Linked DNA regions of Homo sapiens. The protein of the gene in region 4 purifies or fractionates together with the protein of the main gene of each other region. This does not show direct contact. Each region holds a gene or a part of one and is shown on either strand. Other genes may lie near its edges.

The links.
Region 1: the proteins of EXO5 (region 4) and SFXN2 purify together in Homo sapiens (affinity purification with mass spectrometry, with the first as the bait; one study listed by BioGRID). This does not show direct contact.
Region 2: the proteins of EXO5 (region 4) and PNPT1 purify together in Homo sapiens (affinity purification with mass spectrometry, with the first as the bait; one study listed by BioGRID). This does not show direct contact.
Region 3: the proteins of EXO5 (region 4) and AGK purify together in Homo sapiens (affinity purification with mass spectrometry, with the first as the bait; one study listed by BioGRID). This does not show direct contact.

What each region holds. Positions count from the first base shown.
Region 1 is NC_000010.11:102,731,636-102,736,003, forward strand, and holds part of SFXN2 (sideroflexin-2), read left to right. Parts: intron 1-87; coding exon 88-148; exon of another isoform or gene 149-172; intron 173-516; coding exon 517-583; intron 584-1,223; coding exon 1,224-1,273; intron 1,274-1,918; coding exon 1,919-1,968; exon of another isoform or gene 1,969-1,973; intron 1,974-4,226; coding exon 4,227-4,274; intron 4,275-4,368. UniProt on the Homo sapiens protein: Mitochondrial amino-acid transporter that mediates transport of serine into mitochondria. Involved in mitochondrial iron homeostasis by regulating heme biosynthesis.
Region 2 is NC_000002.12:55,668,977-55,673,344, reverse strand, and holds part of PNPT1 (polyribonucleotide nucleotidyltransferase 1, mitochondrial precursor), read left to right. Parts: intron 1-265; coding exon 266-452; intron 453-1,298; coding exon 1,299-1,350; intron 1,351-1,968; coding exon 1,969-2,026; intron 2,027-4,368. UniProt on the Homo sapiens protein: RNA-binding protein implicated in numerous RNA metabolic processes. Catalyzes the phosphorolysis of single-stranded polyribonucleotides processively in the 3'-to-5' direction. Mitochondrial intermembrane factor with RNA-processing exoribonulease activity.
Region 3 is NC_000007.14:141,557,910-141,562,277, forward strand, and holds part of AGK (acylglycerol kinase, mitochondrial isoform 1 precursor), read left to right. Parts: intron 1-4,368. UniProt on the Homo sapiens protein: Lipid kinase that can phosphorylate both monoacylglycerol and diacylglycerol to form lysophosphatidic acid (LPA) and phosphatidic acid (PA), respectively. Does not phosphorylate sphingosine. Phosphorylates ceramide.
Region 4 is NC_000001.11:40,506,416-40,512,422, reverse strand, and holds the start of EXO5 (exonuclease V), read right to left. Parts: upstream 3,657-6,007; 5' UTR 3,515-3,656; exon of another isoform or gene 3,074-3,514; intron 2,973-3,073; 5' UTR 2,798-2,972; exon of another isoform or gene 2,691-2,797; 5' UTR 2,633-2,690; intron 1-2,632. UniProt on the Homo sapiens protein: Single-stranded DNA (ssDNA) bidirectional exonuclease involved in DNA repair. Probably involved in DNA repair following ultraviolet (UV) irradiation and interstrand cross-links (ICLs) damage.

The sequences.
Region 1 (4,368 bases), on a different chromosome or scaffold from region 4:
GCCTGGCCTTGGTCCCCTGGCATGTCATGTGGCTGGCAGGCTTCCATCACCCCTTTCCCAAGTCCATTAACTCCTGTCTGTGTTTAGGGAGCTCATAAAGGGAATCTGCGTGAAGGACAGGAATGAAAATGAGATTGGTCATTCCCGGGTGAGCAGAGGCCTCCCTTTGGGGTGGGAGGAGGGAATTCCCTCTCATACCCTGTCCCCTCCTTAGTGGTCAGAGTAGGCACCAATATAGGATTGAGAAGCCTTTTCTGGCTCCATCCTCACTCCCTATCAAATTTTCCCCATGTTTCTCTGTTCAGAACAGGCCCCTTCTCTCTTTTCTCCATCATTTCTGGTCCATAAAAACCTGGCTAGGTGGGAGGGGATAAAGTGAGGTCACTCAGCAACTGGAGGGTCCTTCCCTTCCCCTTTACCATCTCAGACTTGGCCATGATGCTGACCCAGCCCCCTGGTGCAGCACATGTACACTGGATACATCATTTCTGACAACTTACTATTTTCTGCCCTCAGAGAGCTGCGGCCATAGGCATCACCCAAGTAGTTATTTCTCGGATCACCATGTCAGCTCCTGGGATGAGTAAGATGGGGAAGCCCTTCCATCCTGGGGAAGCCTGTGACACAGGGTGGAGGTCTCAGCCACACTCAGCTTTTGGGTGGGAGGTGGGGCCCACCTTCTACAGCCATGCTTCTCAAACTGCTTTGCTTGATTGCTGTAAGCCTAGAAGAACCACACTAGTTCCTAGAACATCAGTTCATCCAAGGTTTGGGGTAGAAAGTTATTTTCATTTTATTAATACTTGTCAAGCCCTTGTGTTTAATGTTAGACACAGTGTGGGGTGCTAGGGAGAGTGATAGAGAAAATAAATTCCCTGCTTTGGTTTGCTTCCAGCAGTGGGTGTATTGCAAAATTTGTTTGCACGAACGTACAAATACATTTTTGAGTTTTGAGAAGGTAGCTTTGGACCTAGCAGCACATGTTTTCCTGATATTGCAAGTGTGCAGGTTGAGAAGCTTGGGAAGCACTGTTCTGCCAGGACTTTGGGGAGAAAGTTTGGGGGTGGTCATGCCTACTTGCTCTTCTGTTCTGCCTAGTGGTAAGTATTTTCTGGAGCTTCTGCTGAAGGAGAGGGAACCACTTGGTTCCTGGTCTGACTTCAGAAGGAGTCCTGGGGAGAGCCTCCCAGCCCTCCCCTCAGCTTCTCCCTGGTCTCTTCCAGTCTTGCTGCCAGTCATCATGGAAAGGCTTGAGAAATTGCACTTCATGCAGGTATGTAGGGTTTGCTTTGGCATTTTCCCTGCCCAGAGTGCGTCCAGCCACATCTGTCCCTAGGGATACCTGACCTGCCCTCCCCCACCCATCCTTCCCTTTAGCTACCATGCTGTCATCTCACTCAAGCCCACACCAATCTCCACTGACCTCCTGTTTAGATATACCATGGCCAGTTTCCTTACCTGGTCTGCAGAGAACAAGGCCTTCTTTAAGGGCCAGGGGGTCCTTGCCTGTGGGTTTTTCTTTTTTCTTTTGAGATGGAGTCTCGCTCTGTCGCCCAGGCTGGAGTGCAGTGGCGCGATCTTGGCTCACTGCAAGCTCCGCTTCCTGGGTTCATGCCATTCTCCTGCCTCAGCCTCCCGAGCAGCTGGGACTACAGGTGCCTGCCACCACGCCCAGCTATTTTTTTTGTATTTTTAGTAGAGACGGGTTTTCACTGTGTTAGCCAGGATGGTCTCGATCTCCTGACCTTGTGATCTGCCCATCTCGGTCTCCCAAAGTGCTGGGATTACAGGCATGAGCCACTGCGCCCAGCCACCTGTGGGCTTTTCTAGCTGGCTGATCCATGGCAGAGCAGGGTTGGGGTTCACCTTAAGGCATAGAAGTACCATGTGGATCTGTCTTTTATTTGTTTTTATACAGAAAGTCAAGGTCCTGCACGCCCCATTGCAGGTCATGCTGAGCGGGTGCTTGTAAGTATCATATTTTGATGATTTGGGTTCTGCGTGGCTGGAGCACTCAAGATGTGTCGTCTTGTCTAGCCCGTGTTGGAGAACGTGTACTCCTTTACCTGACTTTAAAAGTGGTCAAGCTCAGAATACCTGTGGTCCATCTGGAAAGCTCTCACCCCATCTTTTGTGAGGGCATCAGGCTGGCTAGACTTTATGCACGTGTCCATGTAGGAAGTCCAGTGCTGAGGTGCCCTCCCATCCCAGGGTCTCTCCTTTGACCTTAAGTCTGGAGCAATTTTTTTGTTTTTTGCTTTTTTTTTTTTGAGATGGAGTCTCGCTCTGTCGCCCAGTCTGGAGTGCAATGGCGCAGCCTCAGCTCGCTGCAACCTCCACCTCCCAGGTTCAAGCAATGCTCCTGCCTCAGCCTCCTGAGTAGCTGGGATTACAGGCACGCACCATGATGCCTTGCTAATTTTTGTATTTCATCATGTTGGCCAGGCTGGTCTCGAACTCCTGACCTCAAGTGATCCACCTGCCTCGGCCTCCCAAATTGCTGGGATTATAGGCATGAGCCACTGCGCCTGGCTGTCTGGAGCAGTTTTACAGAAGAGATAAGAACGAGGAGACATAGCTTTGGCTGGGACTGTCATGTGTCCCAGACTCACACAGGAGGGAAATGCCACCAGTCACGTCAGGGTTCTTAGGTATCTGCCATTAACTGGAGATGTCCTAGCGTTCACCATGCATTTCAGGGCCACGAGACTAATGACAGCATCACTAACAGCTAACACTGACTGTATATTTTCTCTGTGTCCCCACTGAACCCAGTGTTTCATATCTATAATTTCACTTAATTCTCCCAGCCTTAGAAATCTACATATTATTATCATCTCCTTTTACAAATGAAGAAACTGAGACTTAGACAGAGTAAGAAACTTGCCCAAGGGTATATAGCTGGTAACTGCTGGAGCTGAGATTTGATCAACAGTCTAACATTATGCTATACCAACTTCTGCTAATTGAGTAGTTACCATGGGCTGGGTGCTTTACATACATATCTCATTGAATCCTCACAGTAACCCTGCAAAGTAGGCACTGCAAAGTGGTCTGCAGTAGCCCTAAAAAGTAGGTTGTCCTCCCTCTGTGTCTCTGAGGTAACTTGTCCAAGATGGCACAGCTAGTAAGTGGTAAAACTGGGATACCAACCCAGGTCTGTCAGAGTCCCGCGTCCTGTAAGACCTTGCCTCCCAAACCCTGGTCCATGCCAGCATCGTTGGCATCCTCTGATAACTTGTTAGAAGTAAAGACTCTGAAGTCCTTCCCCAGACCCCCTCAGTTGGCACCTGGCATTTTAATAAGCTCCTGAAGTTATATGCACAGTGAAGCTGGAGAAACTGCCTTTCACTGTGCTCTGACAGCCCAGGTGTTCAACCAATAAAGAAGCAGGTCTCAGAATCCACAGACTCACTCCTCCCCCTCCATAGTGCCCCTCCCCCACTCCAAAGTGCCCCTCCCCATCCTGGTCACTCCTCCCGATACAAGTCAATCCTCCCCCTCCAAGTTGCTCCTCTCCCTCCTCATCCCTCCTCCCCTCTGTGTCCTTCCTCCCTCTCCATGTTGCTCCTCCCCTCCATGTCCTTCTCCCTCTCCATGTTGCTCCTCCCTGTCCAAGTAGTTCTTCCTACTCCAAGTAGTTCCTTCCCTCCAAGTCACTCCTCCCCCTTCAAGTCGCTCCTCCCCATCCAAGTTGCTCCTCAACCTCCAAGTCATTCTTCCCTCTCCAAGTCGCTCCCCACCCTCCATGCTGTTCCTCCAAGTTGCTCCTGTCCCTCCATGTCGCTCCTCCCCCTCCATGTCCCTCCTCTCCCTCCATGATGCTCCTCCCCTCCATGTCGCTCTTCCCCCTCCATGTTGCTCCTCCCCCTCCAAGTTTCTCCTCTCCCTCCTCGTCGCTCCTTTCGCTCGATGCCAGCAGTGCCTGTGCTCCTTAGGCCTGCTGCTCACAGTCCCTGTTTACTTCATTGTCTTCTTCCTCTGCTTGAACAATGCAGTAAGGGTGGGAATGAGTGATGGGGGTCAGGAGGGTACTGGTTTTATCCCCCTGCCAGAATGAGTATCCTCGCACTGCGGGAACAGGAGGAGGGTTGGAGGGAGAGGATATGGTGCCAGCTGGGAAGGCAGGCCAGGTGCCTGGGCATTGCTCCTTTCCCTTGGGGATGGGGGATGGACGGGCCTGTGGGGAGATGTCCCCTGATGCTTTGGTTTCTCCTTTCTTGCAGCCTCATCTTCATGGTGCCAGTGGCGTGTGGGCTTTTCCCACAGAAATGGTATCTGCTGTTCATTCCTTACTTGGTTTAATTGACCATGCTGCCAGCGCGCTCCCTGATCTGCCTGCTGTCCAGAAGGAGACAGGGAAGGGGC
Region 2 (4,368 bases), on a different chromosome or scaffold from region 4:
TTTTTCTGTTTCATTTTTTATGGGAAATCCCTCCTTAAACTTAAGGAGAATGTAAACCTAAATACAGATATCAAGGTGTCTTTATTCATTTACCGCTGCTTACATTTTGGAAGTATGTTGATTCTGAGGAAAGAAATCAAGGTGGATCTATCACTAAGAAGTAAAATTGATCCATAATATTTATGTCATGTCATGGTATTTGAAAATGTTATATTACTAAGAGCTTCGATGGCAGTCATTTTTTTTTTCTTTTTCCTTTAAATAGTCATGTTGGAAGCCTCTGCAGAGAACATTTTACAGCAGGACTTTTGCCATGCTATCAAAGTGGGAGTGAAATATACCCAACAAATAATTCAGGGCATTCAGCAGTTGGTAAAAGAAACTGGTGTTACCAAGAGGACACCTCAGAAGTTATTTACCCCTTCGCCAGAGATTGTGAAATATACTCATAAGTAAGAACATCTGTGCAAATGAAAATATGAAATTGTCATCAGATTTAATTTCCTCGTGGGAGAGAAACTTCCCATGGAAGCACTGCCCATGCATTACTTCATAAATAGCACTTTTCTGTTTTAAGAGTCATTCCCATAAATATCTGCTTACTCCCTTAAAAAGGATAAGCCCACATCACTCTTGTAAGACCTAACTTTGAATCTCAAATGAAAGAGTGTGTTTATTGGTCAAGATTCAGGTAAGCACCACATCTCTCCACGTCTAGGAAAAAGAATAAAACGTTAAGATATTTGAATATCTAAGGAAACTGTTGGAATTCTCAAAAAGAAATCAGAGGTAATCACTGTTACATGCCCAGTGCTTAGAACGTTAGGCAGACACTCAGTAAATGTAAATGAATCACTGGAAAATTATTTTATTTGAAAAAATTGAAAAGGTTAATACTTTCCCTTAATGTCAGTTGCACAGCCATGAGTTGGAAATTAAATTAACTCTTTCTAGCAAAAGAGTTTCATGTGATAATGGAGCCAAAATGGGTAGAATGAAGAAAGGAAGAGGTTAAAAAGAATATATGAAAGGTGAAATTAATTGAACAATTAAGAAGAAAAGAACAGGATACTACATGTGGTTTCCCCTGGGAGGGTGGGAGAAAGAAATTTGTGTTCTATACCATAAATAGTAAACAGATTAGCAATGATAAATAGCAATATAAATTTTCAATTCTTTCTGAAGTATTTATTAAAGTTTTAGCTGATTATTATTAAATATTTCAGTTTTGTTTATAATAGAAACTGCCTCTTGTTTCCAGATATTATTATGCTAACATTTATTTTCTGCTTAAATAGACTTGCTATGGAGAGACTCTATGCAGTTTTTACAGATTACGAGCATGACAAAGTAGGTATACCTGAGTTTTGTCTTCCATAATTGCCCTAGGAATACATTTTTGTCATAACTCATGTAATTTTCTTTATGAATGCTAGTCCTATTTTTATTAAAAATCTCTAAATGAAAAACTAACAAAAGCCTAATTGTTTCTCCATTCTTTTGTTTTGTTTTGTTTTTGAGACAGAGTCTCTCTCTGTCGCCCAGGCTGGTGTGCAGTGGCATGATCTCAGCTCACTGCAACTTTCGCCTTCCAGCGATTCTCATGCCTCAGCCTCCCAAGTAGCTGGGATTACAGGTGCACGCCACCACACTCAGCTATCTTTTGTATTTTTAGTAGAGACGGCCATGTTGGCCAGGCTGGTCTCAAACTCCTGGCCTCAAGTGATCTGCCCACCTTGGCCACCCAAAGTTCTTTTCTTTTTAATATAAGTTTTAGGGGAGTGTACAAATGTATTTGAATGAATTAACATGTAGTATTTGTCATAAATCAAGAACCAATTCCAATATTTTAAAGAATATTAAAGAAATCAGAGTAATTCACAATGTGTTCATTGTATAATAATTAGAAAACAGAAATATTAAATGTTGTCATGTATATGTAATAACTGAACCTCAACTTTCTTTTAGGTTTCCAGAGATGAAGCTGTTAACAAAATAAGATTAGATACGGAGGAACAACTAAAAGGTAAATTTTATTTTATTTTATTTTATTTTTTTGCTGAGGGCAGCTTTAATAAGGCATGGCCTGACTCTTGCTTCTTGGGATTAAAGGTCAAAGAGGAAAGGCATCACATCTGTAGGAAAAGAAGAATTCAAAGGACTTTCAACTTTACAGCTGCTGTTCCCTAGACCTAGAATGCTCTCTCATAGCAGGTGGTCTTCTTCTAACCCAAGGTTCAAATGCCACCTCTTCTCCAAAGCTTCCCCGAACTGTTTCGGGGAAAGAGAAAGTCCCCTTTGCACAGAACCGCTATTACTATGTATTTTTTAATTTTAAAAGCATTAAAAGAAATAATAGACTTTTTTTTTTTTTAACTTTAGTTGAAGATCTCAAATAAATGTTACTCTCATTGCTTCTCAGCTTTATTTTCAATAAACTTGTAATAATGATAGCTCACAAGGTTACTGCTAAATTAACTTCTATGAATGTAGCTAGCACTACATTTGATGCAGAGTAGGTACCTAGTAAATGTTGAATGTGAATGTTCCTGATCTTTTCTGAATCAAACTCCTACCATACAAGAAATGTAACCTGGTATCTTATCATTTGAAAACCCAAATATATTCTTTAAAATTCTTGAGTTCTTGATCTGTGAAATTGCAGTGTTAATAATACCTGGTTTATGGGGATTAAATGAGTGAATCATTTACATCTGTGCCTGCCACACCGTAAGTGTTCAATAAATGTTAACTGATGCTATTCTTAATACCTAGTGGAATCATAAGATACAGAACTTAGGTAATTTAGCTCTCCAGAAATTATTAAGCAAAGGATCTTACTGTATAATATCAACCTCTGGCCAGGCGCGGTGGCTCACGCCTGTAATCCCAGCACTTTGGGCGGCCGAGGCAGACAGATCACGAGGTCAAGAGATCGAGACCATCCTGGCTAATACGGTGAAACCCTGTCTCTACTAAAAATACAAAAAGTTAGCCGGGCGTGGTGGCGGGCACCTGTGGTCCCAGCTACCCAGGAGGCTGAGGCAGGAGAATGGCGTGAACCCAGGAGGTGGAGCTTGCAGCGAGTCGAGATCGCGCCACTGCACTCCAGCTTGGGCAACGGAGCGAGACTCTGTCTCAAAAAAATAAATAAATAAATAAAAATAATAGTAATAATACCAACCTCACACAAACTGAATATAAATGAAGTATGACATAGTTTTTGTTAATTTTTCTAATAGACAAATATACTCTCACATGAATATTTATTTTAAGATAAAAAACTGGCCAGGCGTGGTGGCTCATGCCTGTAATCCCAGCACTTTGGGAAGCCAAAGTGGGTGGATCACTTGAGATCAGGAGTTCAAGACCAGCCTGGCCAATATGGTGAAACCCCATCTCTACCAAAAATACAAAAATTAGGCGGGCATGGTGGCAGGCTCCTGTAATCCCAGCTACTTGGGAGGCTGAGGCATGAGAATCACTTGAACCTGTTAGGCAGAGGTTGTAGTGAGCTGAGACCGCCACTGCACTCCAGCCTGGGCAATAGAGCAAGACTCCATCTCAAAAAAAAAAAAAAAAGTGCTGTTAGCATTGATATTAAGGCCATTAATTGTAACTGTCATTGAATATGTTTAGTCCTTTCTCACTACATTTCATCCTATTTGGTAAGAAAGAAATTTTATAGCGAATATTGTCTTATTTTAAAAGAATAGTGACTTTTTGTTTGTATTATACATAGTAGAATATCTTCACGACCCTCTGGGTTGATAGGATATTTTAAACATTTTGGTACTGATTGTTTTCCTTTCCAAGTACAACTCAGTTAAGCAGAAAAGATATTAAAGTCTAATATTAAAAATTATTCTTTTCTGAAGAAGATACAATCTAATATATCTTTCTGTGACCATTTCTTGTGTTTTGGTTACTTTGAAGTTATGTTTAATAAACCATACACATGAGAGAATAGTACTTAAAACTTGGCATAAATTAATTGATAGGGTAGAATAGCTTAACATCTAAACCCTAAGCTAAAAATAAAATAAAATAAAACCATAAGCCTTTGAGGCTGACAGATCTTTATTCAGGTCACAGCTGTATCAGTTACTACCTGTGTGGTCTCAGGCAGTTTACTCCACCTCTTTATTTTTTATTTATGTTTTTTTTTAAACTCAGTGGTTATCTCTTACACAGTACTTCACCCCTTTAAGCCTCAGTTTTTTCTTCTGTAGAATGGGAATCATAAAATTTAGTTCATAAGTTATTATGAAAGTTAAAAGCATTAAAAAACCAATAAAGTGCCTGGCTCATGAAAGCATTTGACAAATATTAGATAGAAAACAGTTTGTAGGGATTTCTAATATATTT
Region 3 (4,368 bases), on a different chromosome or scaffold from region 4:
GTTAAGTATATTCACATTGTTGTTCAACAGATCTCTAGAACTTTTTCATCTTGCAAAACTGAAACTCTGTACCCATTGAACAACTGCCCATTCCCGCCCCAACCCAGCTGTCCTTGACAACCACTATTCTACTTTCTGTTTCTAGGAATTTGACCACTTTATACTTTGTGTCAGTGAGTCATATAGTATTTGTATTTTTGTGGTTGGCTTATTTCACTTATAATGTCTATAATGTTTATATTATCTTTACCTTTTCTTTTTTTTTTGAGACGGAGTCCTGCTCTGTCACCTAGGCTAGAGTGTAGTGGTGTGATCTTGGCTCACTGCAACCTCTGCCTCCGAGGTTCAAGTGATTCTCTTGCCTCAGCCTCCCAAGCAGCTGGGACTACAGGCGCGTGCACCATGCCTGGCTAATTTTTCCATTTTTAGTAGAGATGGTTTTTTTTTTTTTTAACCATGTTGGCCCGCTGGTCTCGAACTCCTGACCTCAGGTGATCTGCCCGCCTTGGCCTCTGAAAGTGCTGGGATTACAGGTGTGAGCCACTGCGCCTGGCCTATATTATCTCTAAATGTAAAGATATATTCTTTACGTTTAAAGAGGTATGGTCTTTACATCTGTCAATGGACATTTTGGTTGCTTTTACCTCTTGACTATTGTGAAACATGCTATAATTAACTTGAGTGTACAGATACCTCTTGGAGATCCTGTTTTTAATTATTTTGGATATATGCCCAGAAGTGGGGATTGCTAGATCATATGGTAGTCTATTTTTAATTTTTTGAAGAGCTTTCATACTGTTTTCCATTGTGGCTCATCATTTTACAATCCCACAAACGGTGTACAAGGTTTTCAGTTTCTCCACGCCCTCATCAACACTTGTTATTTTCTGTTTCTTTGATATGGGCTATCCTTATGAGTGTGAGGTGATATGTCATTGTGGTTTTGGTTTGCATTTTTCTAATGATTAAGGAAGTCAAGCATCTTTTCACATGCATGTTGGCCATTTAAAAATCTTTGGAGAAATGTCTGTTCAAGTCCTTTTTCCATTTTTAATTGAGTTTTGTTGTTGTTGGCCTGTAGGAGTTCTTTATGGATTCCAGATATTAATCCCTTGTGAGATATAGAATTTTCAATATATTGTCTCCTATTCTGTAGCTGGCCTTTTTACACTATTGATCATGTCCTTTGATATATATTGTTTTTAGTTTCGTTAAGGCCCATTTGTCTACTTTTGCTTTTGTTTGCCTCTGCTTTTGGTGTTATATTCAAGAAATCATTGCTAAATCCAGTGTCATGAAGCTTTTCCCTATGTTTTCTTCTAGGAGTTTTATATTGGGTCTTACATTTAGGTCTTTAACAGATTTTGAGTTAATTTTTTTTATATGGTATAAGATAGGGGTTCAGCTTCATTATTTTCCATATGGATATCTAGTTTTTCCATTACCATTTGTTGAAGAGACTGTCATTTCCCCATTGCGTGGTCTTGGCATCCCTATTGAAGATCATTTGACCATATAGATGAGGATTTATTTCTGGGCTTTCTGTTGTTCATTAGTCTATATATCTGTATTTATGCCAATACCACACTGTTTTGATTACTATTGCTTTGTAATATATTTTAAATTTAGTACATATAAGACTTCCATCCTTGTTCTTTTTCAAGATTGTTTTGGATGTTTGGGGATTTCTTGAGATTCCATATGAATTTTGGGATGTTTTTTCTATTTTTGCAAAAAATGCCATTGGGATTGCATTGAATCTGTACATTGTTTTGTAGAATAGACATTTGAACAATATTAAGTCTTCTAATTTATGAACACGGGATGTCTTTTTATTGTACTCTTTAATTTCTTTCAGCAGTGTTTTGTTTTTAGCGTATAAGTCTTTTACCTACTTGCTTAAGTTTATTCCTAAGTATTTTATTCTTTTGATGCAATTGTTAATGGGATTGTGTTCTTAATTTCCTTTTCAGATTGTTCATTCTTAGGATATAGAAATATAACTGATTTTTGTGTGTTGTGTATCCTACAACTTTGCTGAATTTATTAGTTCTAACAGCTTTTTTTTTTGGTGTAGAATCTTTAGGGTTTCTACATATAAGATATGTCATCTGTGAATAGAGATAATTTTACTTCTTCCTTTCCAGTTTGGATGCCTTTATTTCTTTTTCTTGCCTCATTGCTCTGGCTAGAACTTCCTGTGCTATGTTGAGTAGAAGTGATGAGTGGACATCTTTGTCTTATTCCTGATCTTAGAAGAAAAACTTCCAGTATTTCAAAATTGGGTATGATGTTAGCTGTGGGCTCATCATAAATGACCTTTATTATGCTGTGATACTTTTCCTTTTGTTGCCCTCCCTCCGTTTTTTTTTTTGCCTATATATCCCCAACCTTTTCACAGAACAGTGCTCACATTCTTTATACCAAACTTGTTTTTACCCTGAGAAGATCTTACCCTGTAGTCTTCTTGAGTGGAAGCTGCCTTGTCCTTTCTTTCTTCTTCTTCTTTTTTTTTTCCCCCATCAGGTCATTTTATTATTATGGTTTTTACAAATTTTGTTTTATTTTAATAGTTTTTGGGGAACAGGTGGTGGTTTGTGGTTACATAGATAAGTTCTTTAGTGGTGATTTCTGAGATATTGGTGCACCCGTTACCCGAGCAGCGTACACTGTACCCAGTGTGTAGTCTTTTATTCCTCACCCCACTCCCACCTTTCCCCCTGAGTCCCCAAAGTCCCTTATATCATTCTCATGCCTTTGTGCCCTCATAGCTTAGCTCTCACTTATAAATGAGAATATATGATATTTGGCTTTCCATTCCTGAGTTACTTCGCTTAGAGTAATGGTCTCCAACTCCATCCAGGTTGCTGCAAGTGCCATTCTTTCTTTTTTTTTTTTTTTTTTTGAGCCGGAGTCTCGCTCTGTCGCCCAGGCTGGAGTGCAGTGGCACGATCTCGGCTCACTGCAAGCTCCGCCTCCCGGCTTCATGCCATTCTGCCTCAGCCTCCCAAGTAGCTGGGACTACAGGTGCCTGCCACCGCACCCAGCTAATTTTTTGTATTTTTAGTAGAGACGGGGTTTCATCGTGTTAGCCAGGATGGTCTCGATCTCCTGACCTCGTGATCCGCCCGCCTCGGCCTCCCAACATGCTGGGATTACAGGCGTGAGCCACCGCGCCCGGCCCATTATTTCAGTTTATTTTATGGCTGAGTAGTATTCCATGGTGTATATATACCACATTTTCTTTAGCCACTTGTTGGTTGATGGGCATTTAGGTTGGTTCCATATTTCTGCAATTGCAAATTTTGCTGCTATAAACATGCATATGCAAGTGTCTTTTTCATATAATGACTTATTTTCCTTTGGGTAGATACCCAGTAGTGGGATTGCTGGATTTAATGGTAGTTCCGCTTTTAGTTATTTAAGGAATCTCCATACTGTTTTCCATAGTGGTTGTATTAATTTACATTCCCACCAGCAGCGTAAGTGTTCCCTTTTCACCATATCCATGCCAACATCTGTTATTTTTTAATTTTTTAATTGTGGCCATTCTTGCAGGAGTAAGGTGGTATCTCATTATTTTTTTTAATTTGCATTTCCCTGATGATTAGTGATATTGAGATTTTTTTCATATACTTCTTGGCCATCTGTATATCTTTTGAGAATTGTCTATTCATGTCCTTAGGCCACTTTTTGATGGAATTATTTTTTTTTTCTTGCTGATTTGTTTGAGTTCCTCTGTGGTGGAGTGCCAGTAGGGAACAAGGACCTCTTCTCCAAGGCCCTATGTGATCACAGAGGCTGCCTGCCTATTGGGGTTTAGGTGCAACTTTCCCTACTGTGTCCAGTGCTGCAATTTTGTCTCTGCTGTGAGAAACTACCCACAAGCAGAAGGATCTGGAACTCAAGGCCTGCTCTTCAGATTCTTTTGTCCCATGAGGCGATATCTTGATGTGGTGCTCTCCTGCTCCTCCTAGGGATGGGGCTTCCTGAGAACCAAAGTGCAGTGATTGTTACTGGTCTTCTGGATCTAGCCATCCAGCAGGGATAGCGGGCTCTAGGCTGGTGCTGGGGAATGTCTGAAAAGAGTCCTGTGATGTAATCCATATTCAGGTCTCTCAGCCATGGGTACCAGCACCTGCTGTGGTGGAGGTGGCAGGGGAATGATGTAGACTCTGTGAGGATCCTTGGCTATAGATAGGTTTAGTGTGCTGGCTTTCTTGAATGCTGGTTATGCAAGCGGTGAAGTTGTCACATGGATAGACTCAGGACCTTTGGTTAGCCAGGATGTTGCAGGCAGTGGTATTAGCTGTTGTTTTCTCCTTCTCGGGAGCAGTGTTACTCTGTCATGAGTTGCGGTAATGTCCT
Region 4 (6,007 bases):
GCATAATTTCCAAATGGCATTCTTCTTCATAACCACAATACTGTCTTCCAAATGACATTCTCCTCATAACTACATTATCACATCTGACAAAATTAGTAATTCCTTAACATTCCAGTTCATATATAAATTTCCCCAACTGTCCTCAAAATGTCCTAGATAGCTTTTCTTTAATCCAGGAAACAAAGACCACACATTATGTTTGATTGTTTTGTCTTTCAAGTATTTTTTAATCTTAAGAAACTGGGCGGCCAAGCGCAGTGGTTCACGCCTGTAATCCCAGCACTTTGGGAGGCCAAGGCGGGCGGATCATGAGGTCAGGAGATCGAGACCATCCTGACTAACACGGTGAAACCTGTCTCTACTAAAAGTACAAAAAATTAGCCGGGCTTGGTGGTGGGTGCCTGTAGTCCGAGCTACTTGGGAGGCTGAGGCAGGAGAATGGCGTGAACCCAGGAGGCGGAGCGTGCAGTGAGCTGAGATCCCACCACTGTGCTCCAGCCTGGGCAACAGAGCGAGACTCCGTCTCAAAAAAAAAAAAGAAAAAAGAAAAAAGAAACTAGGCAAATTATCTTATGAAGATACTCTTTTTAAGCCTTCCTTCTAACCCCACATATCTAACCTGCATAGAGAGTAAGCAAAACAAGATACAACCAGTCCATTAGTGTTTGACTTTGAGTGCCAGGAAAATAAATAATTTGACATAGAATTTTAGCTGATAGAGATAGCTATGAACCAAATGTCCCCTTCTTGCTATTCTAATAAGCAGTGAAATAAGGTGAATGCACCAACTCCTATGTCAAAGCGTAAGAAGTGATGCCCTGAAAACGTCATTAATATCAGTTGTGGTTGTGTTTAACTGATTTTTAAATAGTCTAAATGTCACTAATGAAAGAAAACATAGATAGCTAGAAGAAAAGTTATCTGCAATGAATAAAAATAATACAATAGTAAGACTTTTGCTTATAGAGTATCCTACAACATTATTGCTTTACAGGATATTTCAATAGTAACAAAATACAGAAGCTGTGCATTTACACAAGTGTTATAAACTGTCAATGTGCTTTAAATAATTTCAAGAAACTTTATTTCAACTATGAAGTCTCTGAAAATTGGAAAGAATATTTACCCTTCACCAAGAAACTAAAGTTAAAGGGCATTTATTTTTTCTTTTCTTTTATTTTATTTTTTGAGACAGAGTCTCACTCTTTCACCCAGGCTGGAGTGCAGTGGCGGGATCTCAGCTCACTGCAAGCTCTGCCTCCCGGGTTCACGCCATTCTCCTGCCTCAGCCTCCCGAGTAGCTGGGACTACAGGCACCCGCCACCGCGCCCAGCTAATTTTTGTATTTTTTAGTAGAGACGGGGTTTCATCGTGTTAGCCAGGATGGTCTCGATCTCCTGACCTCGTGATGCACCCGCCTCGGCCTCCCAAAGTGCTGTGATTACAGGCGTGAGCCACCGCACCCAGCCCTAAAGGGCATTTATAACACATATGCTATGAGGTATTTGTGAGGGTGAGGGGGAACTCCAAGTCCAAATCAATAACCTTAAAATATTTTATTTCAAATATCTAGACCTGGCTGTCCAATATGGTAGCCATTAGTAGCCACTAGCCATATGTGGCTACTTAAATTTAATTAAAATAAAATAAAATTCACATCTCAGTTGCACTAGCCATATATTAAGTGCTCAGTAGCTACATCTGGCTGGTGGATACAGATAAGGCACAGATACAGAACATTCCCTGATCACAGAAAGCTCTACTGAACAGCATAGAGTTAGACTATTTCCTGTGTACACATTAACTCCCCAAAGAGAGAGGAAGCTCCTGAAATGTATGGAGTTCCTACTTGTTTTACATACAACATTGAGAACAGGTAGTTCTAAACAGGGAAGTGAAATGTCTTTTGGAGAAGATACAAAGCAGGGCATTCTCTGTGAAAGTATTCATCTATAAGAATAAAACAGTACACTAGGGATGGATGACTGATGCTCAGATGTGTCTGGGACTTTCCTACGCAGAAAAGAATCCAGAAGAGAGCATAATGCAGTGCATTGTGTCCCAAATTGTAGTTTGTATGTCTGACACGAGACGATTTTACATAGCACATGGACCAACATTTTTAGATACACCTTAGAATAACTATACTGTTATTGGAGCAGCCATCAAATGGCTAATTTCACAGATATTGTTTCTTAGGACAAGTTTGATTTTTATAAAAAAAAAAAGTAAGTAAAAACATAGAATAATACAGGTAGTACACAGGTATGGCAAAATTGTTAGGTAGTAAGTGAATGGGATGCTGGGAAACAGCATAATGCCAAGAGTCTGGGAGTCCTACAGATATGGATTCTAAACCTAATCCTGAGTAGTTCGGTAGCATTTAGTAGTATGCTACTTGCCTTTTGAGTAAGCTTGGACAAGGTTCTAGTTTTCCTGAAGTTACTGACACATTTTTAAAATACCTACTAACCCTACTGAGATATCCGACCATTGAGTGATAACATATAGTACGCATATTAGCACTCGATGAAGATAGATCTCCTTCTTTTTCCCCAAGGAAGAGATGAGAGAGTGTATCGATTCCCCCTGACAAAGGAGATGAAACTTTAGAAGAGAAACTCCTATTCACCTGTGACTTCGTTGATCTTCCTCCTCATAGGGAAGGCCAGAATGCTGAAATGACAAGGCTAGGGAAGAGAAAGAAGTTCTGAAAGACCAGGTCTGCATTAAAGAACCTAAATTAGCAACTTAGGTCCTTGCTATGGTAGAACCGGAACTTCTGGTCCTTTCTTACCTGACCATTCCCTCACGTTGGGTGTTTTCTCCTCTCACATTGACACTGCACAGACTGTTACCCACCCCAGATCCTAGGTTACATAACGCTCGCCTCTCTCCTGGGGCAAACTCTCTCCATGATTTCTTCGTTCCCCCGTACTCTAGATGCAATGACTTGATCCAATCCCTGCTCCCTGAAAGTAAAAGGGTCAGACATAACCAAGATCCCCAAGGAGCTCCGAGATCAGTTCCCTCTTCCAGCTCCATTCTCAACCCAGCAGCTCAAGCAAGAGACCTTATGACAGCGGCTCTTTCTCTCAGATGGGTTACTGCCTTCTGCAGAATTGCCGATGGCAACATCCTGACTTGTTCAGTGCGGCCCGGACTTGTGGGCTCCGCGGGCGTTTGCCTTCAGGGAAGATCTTTCCTCTGGCCCTAAAGCACTGTCTCCCAGGGAGTGCCATGCATGCCCTAAAGTGTACTGAGCACTTCCTACAGTTCTGGCAGAGCCAGGAATAAGAACAGGGAGCCGTCCACCTCGGGAAGGAGTCCCGGCCAACAGCACTGTGTTCCGAGGGCGAAGGTCCAGAACGGGAACCCGGCCTGTGAGGGGAGACGAGACGAGCCGCTTCCCGGGAGCCGCGCCCACCAAGGGAGGGAGACGCGGCGATCGCAGGGACAGAACCCTAAGCTCCGAAACGCAGCCTCCCAGCCCATTCTCCGGCCTTCCCCTAACCTCTGATACTCCTCCGAACCTCGGACTCCACCTGGTTTCGCCGCGGCCTCGGAGCTGCTCCCGGACGCTCCCGGCGAGGAGACTGAGGAAGCCGGGCAGAGCGCGCTGCCGGAGCGGACTACACAGTCGGCCCGCCACTCGCAAAAAAGCCGCCCAGAGCCCAGTCCCAGAGTGCCCCGCGGCTGCCCACGGACCGCCTTCCCAGAGGCCCTCGCGGCGCCGCCTACCTCGCGAGGCTGCGGCTGGGGCAGAAATCCGTCTCTGTGAGCGGAGGAGGGTGTGCTTATGCGAGAGCAGGTTTTGGGAGCTCACTAAAGCAGGTCAGTCCCTCTGTTTGCGCCGTTGTCTGTGGGTCGTTTAATTCCGGGCGCAGCTGATCTGTAACTTCCCTCACTGGCGAGGTCTCCCAGTTACCACCGGGACAATCCGAGCAAGGTCTGGGCCCCTCGCTGCCCCCGGTGAAGTGCCGCGTCTCCGCTTGGCCATCCGTGGATTCAGCATCCCCACCTTAGCACCTCCCGCCGGCTTTTCCATTGAGAGCAAAACCACGAACTCACTTTTGAGAGATGCTGGCGCTCCCCTCATCAATATTTCTTTTTTTTTTTCTGTTTGCTTACTTTTAACTAACCTTTTATTGATAAATATAACACAATTTTATTCTGAAATATAAACCAAAGATAAGTATAATTATGAACAGCCAAGTCATTAGAGCGAAAAAAGAATAGTGTCAGGTTCTTCACAGATACACTTCCTGAGAAAACCACTAGCCCGACTTTTATAACACTTTGCTTTTCTTATTTATATTTATTTATTTATTTATTTTACCAAAAGCAGATACTTGACTCTTTGCTTTTCTTTACGGTTTATCACGCATACTTGAAAACTGGATTTATGACAAAGGTGGCATCATACAGCCATGGAGAAAAGATGGTCTATTCAGTGAAGGTTCTATGACAATATGAAGGCCGGGCACGGTGGCTCACGCCTGTAATCCCAGCACTTTGGGAGGCTGAGGTGGGCGGATCACGAGGTTAAGAGATCGAGACCATCCTGGCCAACATGGTGAAACCCTGTCTCTACTAAAAAGTACAAAAATTAGCTGGGTGTGGTGGCACACACCTGTAGTCCCAGCTATTCAGGAGGCTGAAGCAGGAGAATCGCTTGAACCGGGAGGCGGAGGTTGCAGTGAGCGGAGATCACACCACTGCACTTCAGCCTGGGCAACAGAGGGAGACTCCGTCTCAAAAAAAAAAACAAAACAGAAAACAGGACCTCTATCTCTCATTTCATCACAAAAATCAATTGTAGCTGGATTAAGACCTAAATGTGAAATCCTAAACTATAAAGTCTTCAGAATATAATATAGGAAAATATCTTTGGACTTCAGAATAGGTAAATATTTTAAAACAAAAATAGAAAAACATTAAATTGGCCAGGCATGGTGGCTCATGCCTGTAATACCAACACTTTGGGAGGCCCAGGTAGGCGGATCACTTGAGGTCAGGAGTTGAGACCAGCCTGGCCAACATAGTGAAACCCCGTTTCTAGTAAAAATACAAAAAATTAGCCAAGTGTGGTGGCAGGTGCCTGTAATCTCAGCTACTTGGGAGGCTGAGGCAGGAGAATCACTTGAACCTGGGAGGCGGAGTTTGCAGTGAGCCGACAACAGGCCACTGCACTCCAGCCTGGGTGATAAAGTGAGACTCTGTCTCAAAAAAAAAAAGGAAAAAAAGAAAGAGAAAAAAGGAAAGAAAAAGAAAGAAAGAGAAAGAAAGAAAAGAAAAGAAAGAAAGAGAAACATTAAATTAAGACAACTACAGGCTGAGTGCAGTGGCTCACACACCTGTAATCCTAGAACTCTGGGAGGCCGAAGTGGGTGGATCCCTTGAGCTCAGTTCAGAAACCAGCTGGGGTAACATGGTGAAAACACGTCTCTACAAAAAATACAAAAATTAGCTGGGGGTGGTGATACGTGCCTGTAGTCCCAGCTACTCTGGTGCGTCAGTTGGGAAAATTTTGAAGTGACTTGTGTTTTAGATAATATTATCAATCAATTATAGGTCTCCTGAGTGTCATAATGATTTTGTGGTTATGTAGGAAAATGTTCTTTTTCTTAGAAATATGTAAGTTGAGGCCAGGTACGGTGGCTCTCGCCTGTAATCCTAGCACTTTGGGAGGCCGAGGCGGGCGGATCACCTGAAGTCAGGAGTTCAAGACCAGCCTGGCCAACATGGTGAAACCCTGTCTCTACTAAAATACAAAAATTAGCCGGGCATGATGGCAGGTGCCTGTAATCCTAGCTACTCGGGAGGCTGAGATGGGAGAATCGCTTGAAACCGGGAGATGGTGGTTGCAGTGAGCCGAGATCATGCCACTGCACTCCAGCCTGGGTGGCTGACTGAGACTCTTGTCTCAAAAAAAAAAAAAAAAAAAAATGGAATTTAAGTGTATTAAATAGTCTGTTCTCATGCTGCTAATAAAGACATACCTGAG